Regions from separate parts of the Homo sapiens genome. Here region 2 is linked to region 1. The links come from fine-mapping of genetic effects on gene expression. A gene starts in region 1. The other region holds a variant in brackets. All regions are shown on one strand. Distances are between the middles of the regions.

Evidence for each region. PIP is the estimated chance that this variant, and not a neighbour inherited with it, causes the effect. A credible set is the group of variants that fine-mapping cannot tell apart.
Region 2: its variant is the best candidate, but not a certain one, in a credible set for the expression of KRT10 in whole blood (TOPMed, PIP 0.53).

The regions. Positions count from the first base shown.
Region 1 is chr17:40,820,907-40,823,835 of GRCh38, forward strand. It overlaps KRT10 (keratin 10), which reads right to left and starts at 1,708. Exons shown (of 8, transcript NM_000421.5): 1 at 1,053-1,708; 2 at 129-211. The coding sequence starts at 1,679. All of the region lies in intron 1 of KRT10-AS1 (KRT10 antisense RNA 1), which reads left to right.
Region 2 is chr17:40,790,236-40,793,164 of GRCh38, forward strand. KRT28 (keratin 28) reads right to left here. Exons shown (of 8, transcript NM_181535.3): 7 at 2,920-2,929; 8 at 1,961-2,334. The coding sequence ends at 2,192. Among named protein-coding and RNA genes, the nearest start is that of KRT28, 8.3 kb to the right of the region's middle. The variant A/G (reference allele first, on the strand shown) is at 1,390.

The DNA of each region.
Region 1 (2,929 bases):
ACTCCAATACTATTTAACTTTGGGTGAATTCAGAAAAATGTAAATGTTATTGAGGGCATCCCAAGTCATTGTTAAAAACCACTGATGTATTCGTTGTGATAGTATTATACAACGATCACTTAACTTACTTCAGCCTGAAGTCATCAGCTGCCAGCCTGGCATTGTCGATCTGAAGCAGGATGTTGGCATTATCAGTTGTTAGGTTGAGAATCTGGAGGGAGAGGCACAGTTATTTGAGAAGAGGTCAGATGCAGATATGGCTTTTGTAGTGACATAGATGCACTCTGCACTTTTATGTTGTTCTCTTACAAAATCTTGGGAAAATTTTTTATTTTAAATATGAAATATTGCAGGCTTACCCATATACTTAACTTTGAATTATTTGTTCTCTTGGAATTTCTCCAGTCTTGTATTTCTGTACACGAATTATTCCTTTCTGAAAACTAACTGGAATTATATAGATGTATTCCTGTAAGTGTGCCCTCCTCTTTTAGACTATGTGATTTCCATGTATTTCAGCCATGCTTTGGCTGACTCACACCTGCATTTGTTTAACTCATGATAAATACTAATAAATAAATACACTCTGAACTGGTACACAATAGGTACAATTCAGAAATTCCTTAGAGGCAAGCAGTGTCCCATTTTCATACTGGAAAATTTATTTTTCTTGCCATGTTGGTACTGAATATGGCTTGTTATCAGTCTGAATAACATTTTGTTCTGATTCATATCATGATTTTTTTTTTCAGTTTCTACATTTGTAAATAGCCTAGCATATTTTAACTGTGGACTCATTGTATGCTCATTAAAACCTCAAAAGTGCTTAGTAAATCTCCCATCCTCTTAAGACAAGTAGCACACTTGCTGGATGAAGATTGCCATGACCATAGTTTCACAGATGTTTATCTTTGATGAGACTGGGTTATTTTTGAAGGAAGAAAGTAACATGGGTAAGCATAGTGAACAGCCACATTGTGCTTAATTTAAGATTCATCTGTCTGGATTACATGGACAAGATACTTAAAGCTGGATTTAAAAATACCTCTTACCTGATTTTTAAGGTCATCGATGGTTTTGTAGTATTTGCTGTAGTCACGAGGCTCCCCCTGATGTGAGTTGCCATGCTTTTCATACCACTCCTTGATTTTGCCTTCCAGCTCATAGTTTGATTCTTCCAGAGCCCGAACTTTGTCCAAGTAGGAAGCCAGGCGGTCATTCAGATTCTGCATGGTTACTTTTTCATTTCCAGAGAGAAGGCCACCATCTCCTCCAAATCCACCACCAAAGCCTCCTCCAAAGCCGCCTCCACCAAAGCCGCCTCCACCAAAGCTGCCCCCACCAAAGCTGCCACCTCCGAAACTGCCCCCTCCAAAGATGCCTCCATAACTCCCACCAAAGCTGCTACTTCCATAGCTTCCACGAAAGCTACCTCCACCAAAACCTCCTAATCCTCCATAGCCACCTGATGAGCCCCCAAAGCAGCCCCCACCAGAGCTCCCACGGCTAAAAGAGCCACCACTGAACCCCCCTGAGCTAAATCCTCCACCAAGGGAGCCTTTGCTGCTAGAAATTCTTAGGGATGACACTCCTCCTCCTCCTCCACATCCTCCTCCTCCTCCTCCTCCTCCACTGCGGGAGGAAGAGTAGTGCTTGCTTGAGCTGTATCGAACAGACATGGTGATGCTGTTTAGCCCAGGGAGTGCCTGCTACCAAGGACAGTGACAAGCCTTTATATACTGAGAGGGTGTGTCCACATGTGTTAGAGTTTGCTTACTTACATTGTTTTCTTTTTGCCAACTTAGCATCTTTGGCTTATGATTGCATAAATTATCTTCAGTAATAACCAATCCTAATATGTACAATTTTGAATTTGCCCTAAGAATAAACAGGAGGTTTGCTATGTTGAAATTGAAAATGGGTGGAGTTCAGATGAGCATGTTTTATTATGCTTTTCACCTGTTGAAGAACATTGAGCAACCGTTAAGATCCATTTTTCTCAGCACTAATTCAGGTTGCATAGAATGTTTGCAAAGTTTAGAAAAAAAAGTTTCAGCTACAAAATTATAGTTAAAATAAGATTTTTCAAATTCATGTTTTAAACAGTTTTAATTGGAGCAACAAATAGCATAAAGTCTGGCAGGATCATGCTACAATAAGGTTCTTGTAGACAACTGTAGGGAATCAAAAAGAAAAAGTTTCTAAAAATTTAACTAGCATCAATAGTTGCCACACATAAAACATTAAAGCCATAAAACCACAATTTAGGAGATTGTGTTTGTAGGAGATCTTTTAATTTATTTGGCAAATGAGAGTATATTGATATTTTGCCTAAGAAAGTGGAAGTAATGATTTTAGAATTTTCTAATTAATGATGGCATTATTTTTAACATTAAAAAATCTGAAATCATAAAGTTATCCTGGATTATTTTGCACTTTTAAATTCATCATAGTTAAGGTTTCTGTGAAGACCATAATAATGCAGAAAATCTGCATTATTTTCTTAGCATGAAATCCGAAGAACTAACTTGTAGTACTTTACACTAAGTTCTGATTGAGTAAAAAGGGAAAATTTGGATATGTTATGATTGCAAGTAAAAATTTGCTTGCAAAAATGTAAATCTATATTAGAGAATGATACTTGCACCAAATATTATGAACTAGACTGTGCACATGTGTTCCCAAGCTAGGTTCAGTTTCTCAATAAAAACAACACATTTTCTTGGATATACTGTGTACAGAATTTGGTATAACAGTTTGTCTAGTGAAGTAAATTGGGATTTTGGTACATTGTATAAGATTATATCTACCCATAGGCTATGACATTGCTGTTGTTTGGATGTATATATTCATACATGTTTTACAATTATGTAGTGCTGTTTGTGATACTGTGCTTTAAAAATTTCTAGAACAAGCTGTTGAGATAGGA
Region 2 (2,929 bases), 31 kb before region 1:
GCATAAGTGGAAAATGATGACATAGAAAGATCAAACAATCCATAGTTCCTTTTCCTTTCAGTCTTTTTACTCATTGGTAAACCAAAGGTAGAGAATGCTGGTAGAAGGTGGGTATATACAGAAGTGAAATAAAAACAATTGAGTTTGTTTTGTGCAGTGTTTCCACTGTTTTGGTAGGAACAAAATACATATGCATGTATGAGCTACAAATTATGAATTGTGTGATTTTGGGGATTCTGTATACAAGTTAAATGTTCTTTTGCTTGGATTTCAAACTGGCATGGCACAATATAAAAACTCATAGTAACATGTATGCCAATAATTTAGAACTTTAATTTTTCATTATGATATGGTTTGGCTCTGTACCTCCACCCAAATCTCACCTTGAATTGTAATCCCCATGTGTTGAGACAGGGAAGTGATTGGATTATGGGGGTGGTTTCCCCCTGGTGTTCTCTGAGATAGTGTGAATTCTCACGAGATCTGATGGTTTTATAAATGGTAGTTTTTTCTGTGCCCTCACACACTCTCCCTTTCCCGCCACTATGTGAAGAAGGTCTTTGCTTCCCTTCACCTTCTGCCATGACTACAAGTTTACTGAGGCCTCCCCAGCCATATGGAACTATGAGTCAATTAAACCTCTTCTTTATAAATTACCCAGTCTCAGGTAGTTTCTTTATAGCAGTGTGAGAATGGACTAATACACTTTACTTAGAACAAAACTAAATAGCAAAAAAAAAAAAAAAAAAAAAGAAAAGAAAAAAAAAGAAAGGAAACAAAACAGCAACAACAACAACAACAACAGAAAACCCCAAATCAAAACAACAAAATCCAGGACAAATTGAAAACATAAATGCAGATGCAAGGAAACAGCTTGATATTTTAGTGCCTTTGGGTGATACATTTTTCCTGATTGTTGAACAAGGAATCCTATGTTTTCATTTGGCGCTAGGTCCTGAAAATTATGTAGCTGGCCCTGAATATTGTACATTTGGAAATCATTTCTCTGTGGATTTCTAGTATTTGCTTCATTTGATGGCTTTTGGCTGAAGATTTTGTAAATATCTCATTCTTTGCCACTTCTCTGAATCCCATGTGACTGGAGGATTGTGAGACAGAATTCCTTCTCTTGCTGGAGATTTTCACTGGAATCAGGCCATATACCAGAGAAATAAAGGAGCTGCTTTCCTTTTAGGCAATTTAATATTTGTTGGGAATTCCTACCATACATTTTGATCCAGAAAGGTATAAATAGTCATAATCACAAGAATCATGATGTTCATCAGCCTCATGGGGCTTCACATTCGAGAACAGGTGTTGGTGGGTTAAATTTGGCCTGCTATGTGTTTTTGTACAGACTGTGAGCTAGGAATGGTTTTACATTTTTAA[A/G]TGGTCAAAAAAAGTTAAAAGAAGAAGAATATTCCACGACAGGTAAAAATATTTACAATTCAAATTTCAGCATTAATAAATTAAGTTTTATTGGAACACAGTCATGTTCATTCATTCATCTATTGTCTACGGCTGAGGTTTGTAGTTGAAATAGAGACTTTACGGCCTGCCATGCCTAAAATATTTACTATCTGGGTCTTCACAAAAAAAGCTTCTGACCCCTGTTCTAGGAAAAGTGTCACTAACACAAGCCATATTGCTGTGGATTTTTCCGGAGATTATCCTGTTTAGACGAGGAATGGTATCCTGGGTATTGTGGAAAGAAGAGTTTGAGAGAGGCTCTTGGTAAAATACCAGGAATGCGTCATCTAGTGGTGAGACTTTTCAGTCACAGGAGAATTTCTGAAGTTTTTGATTATTTGCCCACATAGACACGATGTGATTTAAAGATTATGCATAGTGAATGTTTCATATTCAAATGCCATGTGGCGGTATTGACTATTATTTAAAACAACAGTGAAAGGCAATTAAAATATATTCCACAAGTGTTTCTCTATGAATGAGACATAGAAAAAAATCACAAATAGTTATTTATTAGTCATCAGTGAATGGAAATGAATGCACATCAACTTTTTTATTTATTGGAAACAAACACTCAATATCCTGTAAAACTAAGAAAACAGGTATTTTTGCTAAGTAATGTATCTTTAAAAGTAAAAAGTGTGTATATTCTCTCTGATATTTAGAATAATGCAATTGTACAGGATCCTTTCCCAAATTATTCTTTTCTCTAAAATGACAGCTAGAAAGGAACCCTTTGTTCTGTCTTGCCGTTGGTCATTTTAGATGTCTTTTCTTCAATGGAGTGAATCCTTGATGAAAGAACTTTACCACGTTGATCTAGCTCTTCAACCACTGTCTTTACCAGTGTGGTTTTGGATAAATCTAGAAATAAAACATAGGCATACATATATTCAACCAAAAAGATTACATGACAATTCCACTGCTAGTTCAATATAATATATTATGCATATTTTTGATTGAGGGAGTAAGTATATATTTATAATAATAGCTTGGGATAGTTTTAGCCACTTGATACTTCCTATTCAGAACAGTTTAGCTAAAACTACTTAAATATTGACTACGGTTGTAGTGTATGACTGCCATTAATGTAAAAGTATTGCTGTGATAGAAATAGAACTAGAGGGCTCATGCTTGTGATCCTAGCACTTTGGGAGGCCGAGGTGGGCAGATCACCTGAGGTCAGGAGTTTGAGACCAGCCTGGCCAACATGGTGAAACTCCGTCTCTATTAAAAATATAAAAACTAGCTGGGCATGGTGGTGGGTGCCTGTAATCCCAGCTACTCAAGAGGCTGGGGCAGGAGAATCACTTGAACCCAGGAGGTGGAGGTTGCAGTGAGCCGAGATAGCACCATTGCATTCCAGCCTGGGCAACAGAGCGAGACTCTGTCTCAAAAAAATTTAAAAAAAGAAAAGAAAAGAAAAGAAATAGAACTAGATTTTATTACCTTTAGATGA